3 linked regions of the Homo sapiens genome follow. The protein of the gene in region 3 interacts with the protein of the main gene of each other region in a pairwise test. Each region holds a gene or a part of one and is shown on either strand. Other genes may lie near its edges.

Evidence for each region. Proteins that work in one complex are often made in the same cells at the same time.
Region 1: the proteins of OTX2 (region 3) and TENT5B interact in binary tests that used the Homo sapiens proteins (3 or more experiments, as listed by UniProt).
Region 2: the proteins of OTX2 (region 3) and KLF3 interact in binary tests that used the Homo sapiens proteins (3 or more experiments, as listed by UniProt).

What each region holds. Positions count from the first base shown.
Region 1 is NC_000001.11:27,004,520-27,009,880, forward strand, and holds the end of TENT5B (terminal nucleotidyltransferase 5B), read right to left. Parts: intron 2,439-5,361; coding exon 1,425-2,438; 3' UTR 501-1,424; downstream 1-500. UniProt on the Homo sapiens protein: Catalyzes the transfer of one adenosine molecule from an ATP to an mRNA poly(A) tail bearing a 3'-OH terminal group in an ATP hydrolysis-dependent manner.
Region 2 is NC_000004.12:38,667,169-38,674,198, reverse strand, and holds part of KLF3 (Krueppel-like factor 3), read right to left. Parts: intron 1-7,030. UniProt on the Homo sapiens protein: Binds to the CACCC box of erythroid cell-expressed genes. May play a role in hematopoiesis.
Region 3 is NC_000014.9:56,800,480-56,807,509, forward strand, and holds part of OTX2 (homeobox protein OTX2), read right to left. Parts: intron 5,189-7,030; exon of another isoform or gene 5,097-5,188; 5' UTR 4,978-5,096; coding exon 4,881-4,977; intron 3,885-4,880; coding exon 3,709-3,884; intron 1,877-3,708; coding exon 1,256-1,876; 3' UTR 1-1,255. UniProt on the Homo sapiens protein: Transcription factor probably involved in the development of the brain and the sense organs. Can bind to the bicoid/BCD target sequence (BTS): 5'-TCTAATCCC-3'.

The DNA of each region.
Region 1 (5,361 bases), on a different chromosome or scaffold from region 3:
AGCCTCTCCCAAATAGAGGCCCTACCTGGGCTCAGGCTTAGGGGGAACCCTACAAGTTCCCCAGTCTCAGCCACCTTTACTGGAGGGGCCTCCAGTCCAGATTCACCCAGCCTGTTCTCTAGCTGCTCCCTTGGAAGAGACGGGGTAGACAGAGCTGGGAACAAGTACCCCTGAGCACCAGAGTCTGAGTCTAGGCCCAGAGCTATTTGGATTCCAGGTAGAAAACATAAAAATATTTACTCCTTAACAAGAGCCCTAGACCTGCTAAGGCAACGTGCAGGTCACACATGTAGACAGCAGCTCTTAATATACAGCTGGTCAGGCTGCGGCTGGGGTTGGGAGAAGGAGGGGCAGTCCCCCAGCCATAGCCCAGGCTTCAAACCCCGCCCCCGCAAATGCTCCCTTCCACAGTACAAGCCAGACTCCAACTGGGGGAGGCAGCTGCAACCCCCACTGCTACGGAAGGTCCTTCTTTCCCCAGAGGAAGCATGGCACTAAGGTTCAGTGTAGACCGTCTTTATTGGCAGGTGTTAAGAGTGCAAAATATCAACAAACCCAGGGGAATACGCAAGGGGGTGGGAGTATGGCTCCCCTACCCCATGTGAGAGCCCTGTAACCAAGCCAGTGGGGTGGGAACGTTGACTTGACTGTGGCAAATTCAGGCTCAGCACCTTCCAAAGAACAAGCTCCCAGGCAGGAGGGCTCCTTGCAACACAAGGGGGAAAGGAGTGGCACCCTGGAAGGGGCCTGGGCTGCGACCCACCCTGGGCTGCTTGGCTCCTGTATACTGCCCACCTCAACCCCTCAAGAGGAAGGCTTCACAGCTGGGGGTATGTAGTTCAGAGAACCGGGCTAAACCCAGCCCTCCCCAAACCCAGGTATCTGCCTCGGGCCTCAGTTTCCCTCCTCCCAGTGATTACCCAAGTTGGCCCATCAGGCCCTGTAGTGGCCCAGCCTGATCCAAAGTGACAAGTCCCTGTAACATACCATGTATCAGTCAGTGTGTGGGCTGCAGGCCCTCCAAAGCTGCTGGGATCACCACAGGCTGGCCTTAGTCAAAAAGACCCTCTTAGACCATGGGAATCAATCCAAGGTGCTGGGCATTAAGGCTACCACCCCAAACTTGCTTTGTCTCCTGAAGGAAATTGACTTCCAAGACAAATGGCGCCTGCACCCCACCGGCATGCTGGTCCAAAAGTGTGATGCAATAACCAAAGGGTCCTCCTGCTGAGAGCCCCAGGCTGGCATTAAGCCCACAGGGGCCTCGTGCTCGGGAAAGTCTGGTCTGTTCAATCAAAGGCCCAACCCTGCAGTGCTGGGCCTCCTGGCACATTCTGCGCCTCTGGTCATGTCCTCCACACACTCTTGGAGGCCCCACCCCACCCCGTGAGGCCCAGTCCCTTCCCTTCTGGCCAGGGTCTGAGTCAGTTACAAGGCAGCCAGGTGGGATAGGCGTGAGCCAGGAGAGGTTGCACGGGGGTCACGTAGTAATTGACAGTGGCTGGCACAACCCCGTCAGTGCCTGGAGGGCGCCAGGCCAGGGCGGCAGTGGCAGCTGGGCCCTGCTCAGCCAGTGCCTGCAGCGCCAGTGCGGCAATGAGGTCCAGCGTCTGGCGGCGCTCGTGGTTCATGAGGCACACGGTGCTCTCGTTGACCACCCGGTGCAGTGTCACCAGGCAGGCGTAACGGCGGGCTGCATCTGCCCCACCGAAGTGGGCCTCCAGGTAGCGCTCTAGGGTGCGCCGCTGCTCCACCAGGTCTGGAAAGTCGATGAAGAAGCGGGAGCACATGTAGCGCTGCAGGGCGCGCACATCGGTGCTGGGCCGGGGCCGGAAGCCCCGCACCAGGAGGTGGCAGTACTTGAGGAGGCCACCACCTCGGATCTCCTCGGGACTGCGCGTGGCGATGACACGGTGCCGCAGGTGCTCCAGGGCCTCGGTGAAGTCCCCGTACAGGCTTTCGCCTGTGACCGTTGGGTGGAAGGCCTCAGACATGGGAGTGGACGAGCACTGGCCAAAGAGCAACAGGGAGTCCAGGATGATCTGGAAGGAGTCTATGCTGAATTCAAACTGGCGTCTCACCGAGTCCACAAACTTGAGCTCCACGTTCTTGCCGCTCTTGTTGGACAGTGAGATGAGGCTCCAGCGGTCCGAGTCTGTGCACACTTTCACCAGCTTCTGCACGTATGCCTCCTTGAGTGTCAGTGGCGTGATCTTGGCCCGGCTCACACCGGCCGGCAGGAAGTCTAGTAGGCAGGCCAGCACCACTGCCTTGGTCAGCTGGAAGGATGCCTCACTGCGCAGGTCCACCCGGAACACCAGGTCCAGATCCTTGTAGCCCAGGCCACTCTCAGGGTGCAGCACGTGGCTGGCAGCTGAACCATGCAGCCGCACACTGTGCACATGTAGTCCCTGCTCCTCCAGGGTGCTGCGGACCACCTGCAGGGGAGAGCAGGAAGGAGAGGTGTCAGGAGCGGGCCTCAGGGGTCCACCAAGGACTTCCGTTTACTTATCACGGTAACTTCAACCACTATTGGCCCCTAACCAGCTGTTATGCCTTTGGAAAATCATTTAACTTTTTTTTTTATTGGGTGGGGGTGGGGGGGTTGGGGGGGAGTCATTTAACTCTTTAAACCTAATCTGAGAATGGCCCATCTGGAGGAATGACTCAGGAAGAATAGCAATGATAATAGCACACATCTGCATAGAATTTACTAAACAGCAGGTCACTTAATCCTCACAATAACCCTGTGAGGTGGATACTATTATTCACACTTTACAGATGCAAAAATGGAAGTACAGAGGGGCCAAGTAACTAGCTCAAAGGCAAACAGCTGGTGAATGCAGAGCTGGGAATAAAACTCCGAGTCCAAGTCTTTTTTTTTTTTTTTGAGATGGAGTCTCACTTTGCCACTCAGGTTGGAGTGCAGTGGCGTGATCTCGACTCACTGCAACCTCCGTCCCCCGAGTTCAAGTGATTCTCCTGCCTCAGCCTCCCGAGTAGTTGGGATTACAGGGGCCTGCCACTGTGCCCGGCTAATTTTTGTATTTTTAGTAGAGACAGGGTTTCACCATCTTGGCCAGGCTGGTCTTTAACTCCTGACCTCGTGATCCACACACCTCCCAAAGTGCTGGGATTATAGGCGTGAGCCACCGCGCTCGGTGGTTTAAGTCTTAACCGTGCTATTCTACCTCTCAAACTGCTAGTAAAACAGTTCTGTATCAGGCACTGTGCTAACTGCTCAAACGTGTTGGGAATATGGTTAGCAGTTCACATTCATGACCACATTAACCCTCCCCATAATCCTACATTTGAGTATTATTTTGACTGATAGATGGAGGACCTCAGGTGCAGAGAGGTAAAGTCAAGGTCACAGAGCGGTCAGGCTGAGACCAGAACCCAGGTTAGTTGGGATTCTCAAGTTCACCTATGTCCTTTTGACTACAATGCACTCATCCTAACTCATCCTTACAAGGACCCAGTGAGGCAAAAATTATATACTTTTTTTGCTCTCGGATGAGGAAACTGAGGCTTACAGTGGTGAAACAGCTAAGGCTCAGTGAAAACTCTCAGCCTTCAGACAGTCCCCAGGCCTGATGGCACAGGACAGATAAACCTATAAGTGGTCCCTCCGCTGAGGTACCAGGTAGGGAGAAGAGTGAAGCTGGGGGTTGGGGACATTCAGTTTTCTCAGTAACCCAAAGTTGTCCTGAAAGTGACCAGGCAGCATTCCTGTCCTGAGTGATTCTGCAACCCTGCCTTGCTGCCAAGTCAGCACCCAGCTCCAGACCAGGCTGTTCTCCTTGCCTCCCAGGGAATTACTACAAAGAATGCACCTAAGTGCTGAGAAGGCAAGCTGTGGTGGGGCAATCAGAGGCGGGCGGCGCCCTCCAGGAAGACTTCCGGGAGGAGCAACTTTACCAGGGGAAGATATTGTCATGGCAATGGGAGGGTAAGCAACTGGCCACAAGGAACACGGAGAATGGGGCGTAAGCAGCTGGCCATCAGGAACACAGAGGGTGGCAGAAGGAGGCTAGGCATCTAATGAGTGCCGAGCACTGGACCTTGTTGCCAGAATCTATGGGGACAGGTGTCTTTTTTTTTTTGAGTCTGAGTCTGTCATCCAGGCTGGAGTGCAGTGGTGCAGTCTCAGCTCACTGCAACCTCCGCCTCCCAGGTTCAAGTGATTCTTCTGCCTCAGCCTCCCGAATAGTTGGGATTACAGGCGCCCATCACCACACTCAGCTAATTTTTGTATTTTTAGTAGAGAGAGGGTTTCACCATGTTGGCCAAGCTGGTCTTGAACTCCTGACCTCAGGTGATCCACCTGCCGCAGCTTCCCGAAGTACTGGGATTACAGGCATGAGGTACTATGCCAGGCCAAGTCTTTTTTTTTTTAATATGGAATTTTTTTCTGCCTTTCCAAACCCTTCTCTACCTTCCTTTCCTCCATCCTTCTTTTTTTTTTTTTTTTTTTTTTTTTTTTTTTGAGAGAGTCCTGATTTTGTAGCTGAGGGTGGAATGCAGTGAATGCAGTGGCACGATCTCAGCTCACTGCAACCTCAGCCTCCCAAGTAGGTGGGACTACAGGTGCGTGCGTGCCACCACACCCAGCAATTTTTTATTGTTTACAGTGATGGAATCCTGCCAGATTGCCCAGGCTGGTCTCGAACTCCCGGACTCAAGCTATTCCCCTGCCTCAGCCTCCCAAAGTGCTGGGATTACAGGCGTGAGACACTGTGCCTGGCCCAGGACAGGTCTCCTGGGAAACTGAAGCTCACAGGAGTGATGTCACTTGCACAAGATCACGTGGAGATGCCTTCAAACCCAGGGATGGCCAACAGCAAAGCCTATCCTGTTTCTACCACATTACAGTCCCAGGGTTCAGAAGGAGCAGACTAGTGTTCTAATCCACCTTCCCTTTCTAAATTTCAAAGCAAAGGCAACCCTCAAGCTACTGAAGCCCAGAGCCAGAATAGTTGGGGAACAGGAAGGTGAGGGTTGGGAGATGCCTTGGCCAGACAAGGCCAGTTGCTGCAGTCCAGCCTGTGGGACTTCTAACCCACACCCTGTCAGCTGGCAGCTGTGCCTGCATGGGCCAAAGACCTTGGTCCAAGGACCCTACCAAACCTGCAGAGAAGACCAGCCCCTTCCTCAGATCCCATTAGGGCTGACTGAGCCTTACTCAGTGCCAGCTCCTGCTCCCAGGCTGGTGCCCACCCCAGGGCTTGGCATCTGGCCTAGTGAGTAGGTAGCAGTACTCTTGTTAAATCCCCTGCGTCAGGGCCATGGGGCCAGCTGTGTCAGCCAGCCAGTCGCTGTTGTCTCCTTCCCAGGTGTGACTACAGCCAGTTTGGCAGA
Region 2 (7,030 bases), on a different chromosome or scaffold from region 3:
AAAGCTAAGCACTGGCACCTACCTGGAATTTCCTACCTAGACATTCTTGGAAATTTTCATGCCACTCTGTGATTTTCACCTGTCCTACTCTTCTATGACTGGTTTGAAAAGGAGAAAAATTCCATGGGGTGTTTCTAAATCTTCGCCCCTCATGAATTAGTTATTTTGCATTAATGTGTATTATAAATGGGAAAGAAGTTAATTATTTCATTTCAGATGAAATATAATGATCCAGTGAGCAAACAACCCACCCTCTCTCCTCTCTCTGCTAACAAGCCACCCAATTTTACTTTCCTGCCTCCACCCATCTGCTCCACCCTATGGAGAGTTGCCAAGGCAAGTCCAACTTGTCCAAACAGGACATGGCTTCAGATAAGATTCTGCCCACACCCTGTACTTCGGAAAGACCAAGTGAAGCAATTGATTTTGCATGTCAATAAGGACAGGTGCAAAGGTAACAACCAAGCAGAAGCCTGACAAGTTTCCAAACTGAGGCCTAGCAAAGCAGGGCTGGGGGCGGGGACACCCACACCTATGCTACCCTCTAAGTTCAAGGCCATCTGGCTAGTGGCATTCCACACCCTTCTTAGAGAAACTGCAGCAAACTCGAATCATTTTCCCTACTAGGGTTACACACTTGTTTATGCTCTCTGACAATTTTGTGTTTTAGTTTTAAGGGCAGGCAACCCAAGATAAATTGAAAAATACCCATAATGTCTAATCCTGCTGTGTACATATCTCACAAGGCCTCGCCTAAGCCCTCACAATTCTCCTCTATGAAGTGTTATATAATCAAATCCAGAAGGGCTGCGTGAGGCCACACTGCCTCTCATCTGCCTCTGCTCAGTGCCCTCCCTATCACTGGAGACCCACCCAACTCCACCCTAAGGAGCCTCCACCCATGGGGCCCCACCCTGCAGGGAGTGGGAGGTTGGGAGGGACCAGTTGGCGCTGGGCAGCAGCCAGTTCCTGGAAATTCCGGCCTGAACAGGGATGGTTAGAATCTTAAAAATAACCAGAAGGAACCATGGGGCTGTGATCATTCCTCTGCTCCTGAGGATTCTCCACTGAAGTTCCTCCCAGAGAGCCACTGAAACTTTGGATACAAAACCATGAGCGAAGCCTACCCTCTCCCTTTAAAAATAAGCAGAAAAGAAAGAGAAAAGCATTTTGAACCACTGCTATCAACGTGGCCCAAACCAACCCTACCCCTCCTTGTTCCTGCCTCTAAGGCTGCCCCCTCCCCGCCTCCCATTGGCCTTATTTTCTGGTCCTTCACCATGGAAACCTAGAGGCCATCTCTGAAGCCTTCCTCACCTCCTTTGCTCTCCCCTCCTGCCTTGGGGGCCAGGCCCTCAGCGCCTCCCACCTGCATTGCTGCAGCTTTTCCACCACTGGTCTCCCTCAGCCTCTCCAGTCCAGCCCTCACCCCTTGCCACCCACGTTTTTCACAGATCTCTTCTCATCCCATCCTTCTCCAGCTCACAACCTTCCCTCCCGTGCACTCCCCGGGTCTGACAGTGGGCTCAGGCACCCATGCTTGGCACCCCGTTACCCACGAGCTGCCCCCTGCTCCAACAAGTGCCCTTCATGCCGGCTGCCCTGCCCACCCCCAGGCCTTTGTTCATTTTTGGCCCTGATGCTGGGCAACCGGCAATGGAATGCCCCCTCCCCTTCCGGCTTATCTAAATCCCCCTAATTCTTCAAAGACCAGCTCAAGGCCCTCCCCACTCTGTGCAGCCAGCTGATTGCTCCCTGGGGGATCCAAGGCCGCCTCTTCTTACCTAGATAGTCTAGGCCTCTTAGCTTTCCCAGTGGTGCGTCCCACACCGCCACCAGTACTGGGAAGGACAGACAGGCAGGCCTCAGCCTTCCTGAGAGGGCTCCCTCCCCACTCCCCACAGGAGATCGGGCTTGTTCCCTGAATGAAGTTTTTATGTCAAGCCTAAGGAGCTAACATAAGAGCACTTAGCTTATAGTAGGAGTTCCACAATCATCTCCCTTTCCCTCTGAATGCACTTGAAATCTCCCTTAAACAAGTAATAGGGATGAAGGGCCTAACTCTAAGGGAGACCTAGTAAACCAAACTTCCTAAGGAAAAGTTATTGCCCCTAACCTTAGCCTGGCCCATCATGTGTACTCCAGAGACCTTATTAGTACCATCTTCAAATAATTTATTATTATCCACTCAGTGAGGTCTTCTAAACAAGTCTAGTGTCGAGGTCTCTACTGTACTTTAAAATCTAAAATAGAAAAAAGAAAGCGAGAAAGGGAGGAGAGGAGGCAGGTGGGGGGGAACTGCAAGGGGAAGGGGTGTGTGCACAAACACAGGTTTTTGAAAAGGGATCAAGGAAGGCAAGGGGCTAAGTGATGTCACAGGTTTCCTGCCAATCACCACCACCTTCGTGATTGGCAATCCCCAGGCGCTGTTTAATGTCAATGAGGTGGTTACTACCTTCCCGTTTTACTGAAAAGAACACTGAAACAGAGAGGTCAAGTAACCTGCCTAACATCACACAGCTGCTAACTCGTAGAGCCAGGACTTGAACCCAAGGTAGTCTGACTTAAGACTGGTGGCCTTGGCACACCACTCTTCCACCTCCCCAGGCAGAGGACAACATTACACCACCAACAGTAAGTACATGATAGTGATTTCTGTGAACAGGTTGGTCCCCGGAGAAGACAGAACGTGGGGACAGTCTGTTTACATTAGTGACAGTTTCCACTCCTTCCAACTGGCCCCTGCTGCCCACCCTGTCTCAGTACGCACACTTGGATGCAAGATCAAAAGACACATTCTGAAGGCCCCAAATTAGGCAATTATTCTTCCTAGCCAGTGCACCTGCATTGTCGATATAACTGCTGAGAAAAATTGGCAGCTTGACCCAAGTAAATACGGAAATCCTCATAATAACTGCACAAAGGTGGAAGGGTCAGGTCCTCATCCCCATTTTAGAAATGAGGAAATGGAGGAACAGAGGTGAAATGACTCGCCCAATTTCACAGAGCTGGTTGGAGCTGCAGCCAGGAACAGAAGCGTGTCTGCCTGCAGACCCGGGCACTTTCTGTTCTGCTTCAGAGCCTGTGCTGTGGGACCGACTTTTAGGTAAAATCGCCTAATGCTGGGGTCTTTCCCCAGTAGGGAGGGTGTGGGTGTGCACAGCCACACTGGCCCATGGGAAGCAGTGCCAGGGGGAGGTTCCAGCAGGCAATTAAGATTTCAAAATGCCTTTTCAGGTTAGATCACTGTAGATCTACTCCATCCTATGGCATAACTCAGAGTAATGATTGCACATAATTTGAGATTAGCTCTAATAAGTAGGTACTCAATAAATACTTGTGAGATGAATAAATGAATGGATGTCAAACTACACTTCTCACATGCTAGGATAAATTAAGGGCAAGGGCCCTGGAATGATGGTACACCAGGTGTCCTACATGGAAACTCTGTCCAGCGGCTGGTGAAGCCAGCCTGAAACCTCATCTTCTAAAATGCAAAGTAAATGTGAAAACTTTGGGAGCCTGGGAGAGAAAAACTCCCTGGTTTGGAAACTCAGCGGAACAGGAACTCGATCTTACAAATGAAAGAGGCTTTGGAGTGTGAAGCTTTGGAAGGTACCAGGGATGCAAAGTACAGGAACAGATAAAGGAGTGGATTTCAGTGATTACACTTAAACAACAGTGGTAGTAGAAAGAACAGCATATAGGCCAGAGAAAAAACCCCACACTTGATTTGCAGGTCGCTCTCCAGGGCAGAATCCGCTGACCTCAATACTCATTTGATCTCTTATGTCCAGATTTGGCCAAACTCCACTGATTTGGGTTGAGACTAGCTCTGGGCCATCCCTGGCAGGATCCACAAGCCTTCCAGAGACTGGCAACCATCCTGAGGATGTCCCAGACTAAGCAGGGCAATTCTGGGTCCTCCTGCAAAGGGTCTGCCTCAGGGAGCGCCCCCTTACAGGAAACAGGGTAAGAGCCAGACCCAGGGGTTACATGAAATGCATGGGCTAGAGGGCCACTTAACTTGCTCTCTTCTGTCTCCAGCCCTTCTAAATAATTAGATGGAGAAATGATAATGAATTCAGCCTGCCGACACAATGGAGTGAGTTTCAAAAACCTCCAGGAGCCTGTTTTGCTAAAGAAACAATTTTACTACAAACTCTCTGGCCAACGGATACAAAATGCACAGATCATTTTTTTATTTTCTTACTGTTCCAGAGAATATGGTCACATTCATTACAGAATAAGGACAAGGCCAGTTAAGAGGACATCTTTTTTTTTTTTTTTTTTTTTTTTTTTTTTGAGACAGAGTCTCACTCTTGTTGCCCAGGCTGCAGTGCAGTGGCACAATCTCGGCTCACTGCAACCTCCACCTCCCAGGTTCAGGCAATTCTCCTGCCTCAGCCTCCTGAGTAGCTGGGATTACAGGCGCCCACCACCACGCCCGGATAATTTTTGTACTTTTAGTAAAGATGGGGTTTTGCCATGTTGGCTAGGCTGGTCTCGAACTCCTGACCTCAGGTGATCCACCCACTTCGGCCTCCCAAAGTGCTGAAATTACAGGTGTGAGCCACCGCGCCCGGCCGAGGACACTATTTTTTTGCTTTGGAAGAAATGAATCCTAGTTTTGGTTCAGAAACTGTCAACAGCATTGTGCCTCTTCTATGACTACTAAATTTCAAGCAAAGAGAGCTGAGTTGGGGGTAAAAGCAGGGCTATTCCCCGCCTTCAGACAATGCTGTCCCTTATCAGGGCAGACTGCTGTCTGGTTTCCTGTCTCCAGCTCGGGCATGACTGCTTAAGATGAGAAACATGGTCTAAGAAAGGAACAGAGTGGTCTTGAAAATGAGAATGCTAGCGACCACCATAACCCTCTTCCAACTCACTCCCAAGAGGAATTCTGACTAGAATATCACATACTAGCAAACTAGATATCAATTGTTTTAAGATTCTAGGGATTTGCTTTTTTAAAAAGCTAGAACCAATGATAAATGATGCACTTCAGAAAGAATCCAAGTTCCAGAATAATGTAATTGTAATTCCTAGTACCTTAAAGAATGAGGTTGTGTGTATTTTATTTTTCTTAAACTCAACTGGGTGTGAAAACAGAGAACAAGAAATGCTGCCTAAGAAATCTGTCGTTTTATAGCAAAAATGTTGATTTGAAAATATTAAGAAGGCAAGTATCTCAAGGGGCGATGGAGACACAATGAAATTAAATTAGGAATCATGATTTATATGGTTAAGAAATTAAAACTCTTGTTCCCATCTTTCTGGTAATCATAGCAACTATAAGATAGGATAATTTTCCCCAACTATTCAGCTTAGCATTTAGAAGCTTGCAGAATTTTTTTCTGATAGAATATATTAGACCCTAATTATCTCTATTAACCACTTCATCTCCCTGCAAAAGAGAGAAGAAAGAATTTGGGGAAAGCCAAATAAAGACTCTGTTTACCAAACCTAGTTAGATTGTTAACAACTTTGGAACCAAAACAAACAAAAAAACCTGCTTCGATTGGAGTTACTTATGAATTTTAAGCTTAAAAGTCTCTTGTCCTACAGGTCAGCTAAGTATTTCCAGCTGCTTTTCCCAAAGGAGAAAGAAGTTATTGGGACTTCTAAAACTCCCAGCTTTTTTCATAGAAGGTTATCAGTAGCCAACTATTTGATACTAATAACTCTCTTAATATCATATTTTATATTTTCCATTTATACATAAAGAATGTGGTGGAATGTGACATTTAAAACGCACCATTATCATCAATTTTGGGGAGAAGAGAGCCTGATTTGCTGCTTCAGCAACTCTTTAAATTAATTCCACAGAGATGCTGTAGATGATTCCTTTTGATTAAAAAAAAAAAATCCCCAAGTAAGTTTACAAAAGCACTTTCCAAAACTTTTCTTTTTCAAGCAAATATTTCCTTAAATCTTAGTTTCTCAAGAACCAACAGAAAACTAATATTAAGGCAGGTCTTAAATAGTTATCCTAGAAATTCATTAACCCACAACTGATAGAATATTTTTAAAAAATGAAAAATATTATTGTAAAACAAAAATGAGAAGAGCATTCTTCTTGTTTTCAAAATAGAAGATTAAAATTTTCCAAACAATCTAGCATTAAATGAATTTGTTAATGCCAGTTCTCCTTTGAGCTTTTTAATTCTTAAAAACGGGTTGGAAATGAGGTGTAGAATATTGCACAGTGAAATCTTTGTCCTTAAAACATTATCCTGATATTTAAATCTTTGTCCTTAAAAAGAAATAATCCCGGGATTTTCTCAATGTCTTAGGCTTTGCTTCAATGATTTTTCTAAAGATTTCTCCTTCCAAACATAAGCAAGACTTAAACTAAAGCCAGGCTGCCAACATTGCTTAAATTCTCCATCCACGGAAGCCACCTGGAGCAGCCTGGGTTAAACGTGAACGAGGGTGGGCCACATCTTTCAGATAATGCTAGGTCTTCTAAACTGTAAGGTGTTAATCCTGATCCAAAATTGACAGCTTCAGGGCAAAATGCCTATCTTAAAACAAACGCCCTAACCACTTCAACACAAGAATTACAAACAAATACAAACAAAACTCCTTTAGGTTTCTTTGCCAGGATGGACCCACGTTTCCCCAAATCACAATCTAGCAATAAAAAATTTAAAAAGGTAAAAGCATTTATTCACCCAGACAAATGCAGTGGAGCAAAGGGTGTACGTAAAAAGGTTAACTGACTTCTCATTATGACATAACACAGGCGTCTTAAGCAATATCAAGTGTGTAGAGACATGATAACTCCATGGGTGGGGATACGGAGTTTAGGGGCAGGGACCTCAGCCTGGTCTGGGCTACTGATCTACCAGAAAACAGCCTGAAACAGGAAAGAGCACACATATGCCACTTGGAATGTATGACGCAAACCCCAGCCTTGAAACAAAGAACAGGAAACAGCTCTGCTGGCTGTGCTGGAGAGAAAGCACAGAGAAACATTTAGCCGGCCCTCCCTGACCCTATATTCATGAGCAGCTGGAGTTTTTTA
Region 3 (7,030 bases):
GTTAGGCTCTCCAAACTCAATTTCAGAGCAATCCTGATGAAAGTCACAAAAAGTCTACCTACCACTGTCATTCATATCTATTTTATGCATAGATTAGCAAAAAAAAAAAGTAAAAATAAGTTTGCTAATTTACTCTCTGTCCTAAGAAAAACGTGTTTTGGGGAGGAAAGGCTGAATGTAGGCTTCTTATTCATAAATAGCGGTGTAAAATTAAACTGGACCCAATGTTGTGCTAGAACCATTTTAATATAATTATACATATCTGCCAAATCCAGGAAGAAAAGGTTTATGCATATATAACTTTTCCATTTAACATCTGCAAGCATAAACGACAATGATCTCAGTTTAATAATTCATCAGGGTCAGAGCAATTGACCAATGTCTCTTTACTGCTAGGCTTACCAACAGTAAATTACAGATGAATTAGTGTCCTTTTGCTTCTCTTCTCTGACTCTCTTTGTCCAGAGACATTTTGTCGTAAAGTTTCAGTGCAGCTCACCTCCAGCCAAAGGTAATCTTTTTAGATCAGTACTCAGTTGCTCTGAATTTTGCTTATAATTATAACCTATTTAATCACAGAAGAACCCCTGCAGAGGTGGAGTTCAAGGTTGCATACAATAACAGGAGATCACAGTTTTGAAGTCTAGCACAGATTAAAAACCACAGATGTACCATTTATAAGACACACACTGATTGTCTCTTAAACTACATATTGACTCCTTATGAACATTATTTTTTAAATAAAGTAGTGCATCTAGGACAATCAGTCACACAATTCACACAGCCCTGAAAAGTTTTTTCAGTGCCAACTACCAGTTGGTCATGAAACGTGAATGAGCTTGAGACACTGTTCATTCCTAAGATTCAACCAAGGATTGGCTAAAACAATGGAACACCTCTGCTTAAGAAGGCTATGACCTTCCCTCCCTTCCTTCACAACTTAGTTTTGTTTGATTTTATTTTTGGTGGTGTTTGGTTGCACATGGCTAGAATGCTTTTGATCACTTTGCAAATCAGGATAACCAATGATCTAAAACTATGACAGGATCTTAAGCAGATTGGTTTGTCCATTTCATGTTGCTGGTTTGTAGGCCCCTCTAAGGCCCTTCGTTTTTCCTTCTATGCCTCTCGGAACTTTGATCAGATGAGTCTGAGCATCATCCCATCTAACTCTTTTAACCAATGCCTGGCTAAAACTGGAATGTCCAGCCCAGTATATTTAAAAATCACCCACAAAAAGAGGTTCTACAGGTCTTCACAAAACCTGGAATTTCCACGAGGATGTCTGATCTTTATAATCCAAGCAGTCAGCATTGAAGTTAAGCTTCCAGGAGGCAGTTTGGTCCTTATAATCCAAGCAATCAGTGGTTGAGTTAAAACCCAAGCTTGAAGCTCCATATCCCTGGGTGGAAAGAGAAGCTGGGGACTGATTGAGATGGCTGGTGACTGCATTGGTACCCATGGGACTGAGTGTGGCCCCTGGTCCGGGAAGCTGGTGATGCATAGGGGTCAAATATGATCCACAGTCCATGCCCCCAAAGTAGGAAGTTGAGCCAGCATATCCTTGACTATAACCTGAAGCCTGAGTATAGGTCATGGGATAGGACCTCTGCATGCAGGAAGAGGAGGTGGACAAGGGATCTGACAGTGGGGAGATGGAAGCTGGGCTCCAGATAGACACAGGAGCACTGCTGCTGGCAATGGTCGGGACTGAGGTGCTAGAGGGGGGAGTGAATTGGCCACTTGTTCCACTCTCTGAACTCACTTCCCGAGCTGGAGATGTCTTCTTTTTGGCAGGTCTCACTTTGTTTTGACCTCCATTCTGCTGTTGTTGCTGTTGTTGGCGGCACTTAGCTCTTCGATTCTTAAACCATACCTTGGAAGGGAAAGAAAATTCTTTAACTCGGTTTTGATAGTTCCTTAAGGACAAGAATGGCTCCCGTATTATAAATCTATCCTACATGGGCAGATCAGCTAAACACACAATTTCCCCTGCCACTGAAGACCTATTATGTGGTACTCTCATATAAACTCCTGGACTTGTAAGAAAGTTGGGGAGGCTCTGTCTAAAAACACTTGACACTGTCTTATTTCTTGCCCAGAATAACATTTAAGATAATCCCCCAAATCATATAGCTAAAAACTCTCCACATCACTTTCCTATCTTATTTCGCCTCTAACACACACATACACATAGACCCAGCTATATTTTGGAACACTCTCACAGAGGAATAGAATGTATCTCTGTCTTTTGGAGGGAAATACATGAGAAGTGAGAGAAAGCAATTCTGTTGTTACAGGCTAACAGGAACAGCCTAAATTCATTTACAGTTCATCTTCCAGGAAGCAACTGCTAATATAGAGGTTGGTTGGTTCCATCACCCTTCTGTCTCTCTTAGAAAGACTCACAGAACAAAGCTCCAAGGGGAAGACATGATCTTGTTGAAGAAAGAGGTCTGAAAGCCACTATTTGCTAAAAGCTTCTTTGTGGTAAAAGGAGTGACTTACATGCACTCTGCTTTGAGCTGGAGCACAGACCTGCTAGTCTCTGGGACTCGAGTCTGTGTTGTTAGAGTAGTGCCACTCAGCACATAGACTCAGTCTCCTGTGCTGTGTTTACTGACTTACCACTTCAACCCCCTGCTGCAATCTTGACAATTCTCTTTACCAGCCCTGTTCATGTTCTGCAATGAAGGAGCTATGATTGGTGTACGAGGGGGCTTAGAAGAGGAACTACTGGCATTTTCTGGAGGACAAATCCTTAGCTGAACTTTTGAATGAGCTCTCTGTATGGGTGCCGTAACTGTGGTAAAAGTGAGGCCACCAAGGCCAAGCTCAAGACCACCAACCATTTGGAGCCATTTGTTTTCTCCTAGTGAGGACTTTGGTTCAAGCCTTGCAAGTGCTAAAACTTCCTCTAACCTACTTTGAAAAAGCCCCTTTCCCAATTTGCAGCTGACACTGATGTCTGTCGCTTTCATAAACATATTCTAGCCGAAGGAGAGGCCCAGGTGTGTATGTGGTTTATGTGCTAAACACTTTGCAGAGAATTCTGTACAGGGCTCACTCACAAGGCAAGCTGGAGTTGACCTTCCCTCTCCAGTTTAAGGTCAAGTTTAGGGGAACTAAAACAAGAGGGGTGTCACTAGAGACATTATGTAGATATTTTATCTGTTAAATGGCTCAGAACTAGAAAATTCTCTTCAATCCCTAAGAAGTCAAGGAAAATACATTCTTTTTGTGTTGATTTATTTGGTAAAAGCACCAGCTGCGTCTATACCCTGACTCTGCCACCAAACTTAGTTATGACCTTGAGCAAGTCATTTACTCTATTTTTTCATCTGTAAAAATACTTGGACTGTCCAAGAGCTAAGCTGCTTTCACACGTACAAGTCCATGAGAATAGGAGAGGATTTCTATACAGAGGAAGGGAAGGGTTACAACACCACGTGACTACTCTTGAAACCTGCTCAAGGATGGGTCTCTCTCCACCAGCAACCCGGGCCTTGAAGACCCTTGCTTACGGGATTAAGTGGTGACGGGCAGGCAAAAAAGGGCAGAAGGAGAATAGTTTCCTGGCCCCTTAGTGAGTGAAGGAGAATTTCAAGCCTTCCTTCAGTCCTCTGAAAGACCTGGGGCTCTCCACAGTCCCATACTCGGGAAGGGTGGCATGATCAGGAAGGATGGTTCTGCCTGCATCTGCCCTACCTGCACCCTCGACTCGGGCAAGTTGATTTTCAGTGCCACCTCCTCTCGCATGAAGATGTCTGGGTACCGGGTCTTGGCAAACAGTGCTTCCAGCACATCTAGCTGCGCCCGAGTGAACGTCGTCCTCTCCCGGCGCTGTTTCCGGGGGGTGGCTGCGGGACAAGAAGCCCAGGGCCCTTTAGGGTGGGGGAGCAGTTTCTCAGTCATAGGCGTTTCCGCGGGTTCTCCGACGCCCCTGCCCTCCACCCCGCAGCAGTCCCCCGTTCCTCACAGCCCTTCAGCCGGGAGCCTACCAATGCTCTCCCCACCGTCTCCCCAGCCTTGCTCCCCGGGGACCCAGGACACACGCTGCTTCTTTCCCTACTCTTCTTGGTGTTGAGATTGCTCCAATCAGAGCATCACTTGGAAAGTTAACAAATGAAACATTTTTTAAAAGACACACAAAAAAGTTCTCCAAGATCAACCCCCAAACCACAACACAAAAAGGCTATTCCAAGAAGTCAAAGGATCTCCGAGGACAGACTGGCAGCTCGAATTGATGGGGGAAATCTGGATCCTGTTCCCATGGTTTTTAGCACACCATGGGCCTTTGTTCCTCCATCTTTAAAATGGGGACATAGTTCATACTCCTGGGAGGATTTTTAAACATATCTGATTGGAAAGGAAAGCACCCGCATTTGGAGGAAGTCACGCCTCTTGGGATTAAAGCAGGCTCTGGAGGTCATAGGGGAAGGCCTGGGCATGGAGGGAACAACTGCGAAGCCCGAGAGTGCTAAGGACTTACGGAGGGAAAACTCAGCTTCTCCAAGAGGACACTTCTGAGGAATTGGTCATTGAGATATGGGTAGGGGTCTTTTGCCCAAATGACAAGGACAGTAACCTTCCTCATCCCACTCTGATGCCAATCCTTATTTACTCGAATTAAGAATAAAGTGATGTGATTGTAACGGTTGCAGACCCACCTACTCACTTTTCCCAACCCCTGTTCTCTGCTTGGTCAGTAAATGCCCTGGGACTGCTTCCTCAGAAGGCAAACCTAGAGGAGACCAAGCCTGAAGCTGGGTGGGGACAGTGTGACTGCCAACCCCCGTGTTCCATGGGAACAGGGTGTTGCATCCCCGGAGGGTGGGCATGGGGAAGAGGGGTGCGGGAGTGCAGCAGGGCTCACTTACCCGGGTAGCCCACGGAGGGGTGCAGCAAGTCCATACCCGAAGTGGTCAGACTCAGCCCATTGACTGCGTAAGGCGGTTGCTTAAGATAAGACATCATGCTAAGGTTGTTTGGAGGTGCAAAGTCGGCCCAAATCGGGGGTACCCAGCTGGAAGATCTTGATGCGCCCGGGGTGGACAGGTTCAGAGTCCTTGGTGGGTGGGTTTGGAGCAGTGGAACTAAGGGCAAAGCAAACAAACAAACAGAGGGGCTGGTTTACTGCTTCGGAGGCAGCAGCTCTTCCACGTTCCAGCACTAACTTAAAAAGAGCACGGACTAGGCGAGGCAGAGGCTTTTAAAGGACTTGCAGACACTCCCCCCACCCCCATCCCCACCCCCACCCCCAGCTGCTCTGGAACTAGAGGGGATGGAAGGAGACCAGATAAACCTGTCTTCCCCACCCCCACCCTAAACTTAAAAAAAAAAAAAAAGTACCCGAAGAAAGCAATTACAATCTGCCTTCCCCAAGAACAAAAACCCGTGCCTTCAAATGCACACATTGCATTCCTATCCCTACATTTGCATAGGACTCATTGGCTGGCACTAGCTAATTGTCTCAAACAAAACTTGATTGGGGCCATTTGCAGAGACAAAGAACTCTTTGGCTAAATAAATAATGCTGATAACAAAGCCCATTGGTGAGAAACAAAGAAACAATTCAAGAAATCTACCTCTCCCCAGACTGTTGCCTTTCCATGGCAGAGATTTTAATTATCTTAGCTTTTTACCACTTTCAACTGCTGCGAACCTAAAATGTCAGTGCGTTTAACATCTAAAATACCAACTCACTAAACCACAAACTTGGAAAAACCGCTCAACCACTATTATTCCACATTTGAAGTCATTTCCGGTAATCATTTTCACCTAATTAGTAGTCTGGGTAATTAGATTTCGAGGTAAGTAACAGATTTATTAGGGTTTTGGAGAATCTTGATTATATGTGTCTAAGGAACGAAAGCTAAACAAACAAGTATTTAACTTTTAATAGACACCCATCAAATATTTAAGCATATTCCAAAAAAGTCTTCAAGATTGGCACAGGGCTTGCCAGAAATTGTGAAGTAAAGTTAGAATCCCACCAATCAGATAATGACGGGACCCCACATTTGTAGTGCAAGCTGCTTCCATGTTGATTTTGATGTGTGGAGGCTGCAGATCCTGCGGGAGGCAAATTTTCAGACATTTGGGTCCTCGGCAGCTGCAGCAGAGTTTCCTGTTAACTCTAACTGCCTTTTGCACATTTTAGTTTTGAAGAAAGTAGATACACAAACACCCAAAGTTGTGAAACTAGTAGAATTTCTCCCTACCTTTCAAGTTTCCTACAATCCTATAAGAAAAAGAGCTCAAGGGGGAAAAGAAAGGAAGAAAAAGAAAAGTTATTTACTTTCTTCAGCTGAGCTCCCCGCCTCCACCCCAGCAAAGAGATTCAAAGTAGATGTTAATATAGACTGGCAGTTTGCAAGTCTGGCCTTTATTTTCCTAAAATGTGGCACTTATATGCAAGGATCTCTACTTTGAAACTTTGACACCATGAGAGATTGCTTCAAAATGGCGGATACAAGATAAAGGTCTCACTGACTTTAAAGGACTCCGGGTTTTCATATTTACGTTGCTTAAGACAGCAAGGCACAAAAGTCCATAAATGAAACTTAGTAACTGCAACTTCTTTCTGATTTAAATTCAGAGCACAAAAGTCATGCTTTTCTACCCTAAGATCTAACTTAATATAATTTTATAAATGTCTTTCTTGGAGGAGTTTGTATTATCCTCAGTACAACTAATTTAGTTGCCCCTACAATACAGACTTTATGTTTTTGTATTGTCTTTTCTTTTCAAAATGCTGTTCTTTGGAGGCTGCGAAAATAAACAAAAATCTCCAGCTTAGAGGCTGTTTAAACACATATGCGACAGCTTTAAAATACAGTTGTATATGTGTTTAAACAGCCTCTAAACTGGAGATTGGAGATTTTTTGTTTAATCGTACTACCTTGCAAAATTCTGAACTACAGTGCTATAGAGAATCGTAAAATCATATCAGATGTACCCTTGAGAAATATGGAAATGTTCTTACATGTAGAGCTCTCACCCAATTAGAAATGCCTGACACATCATA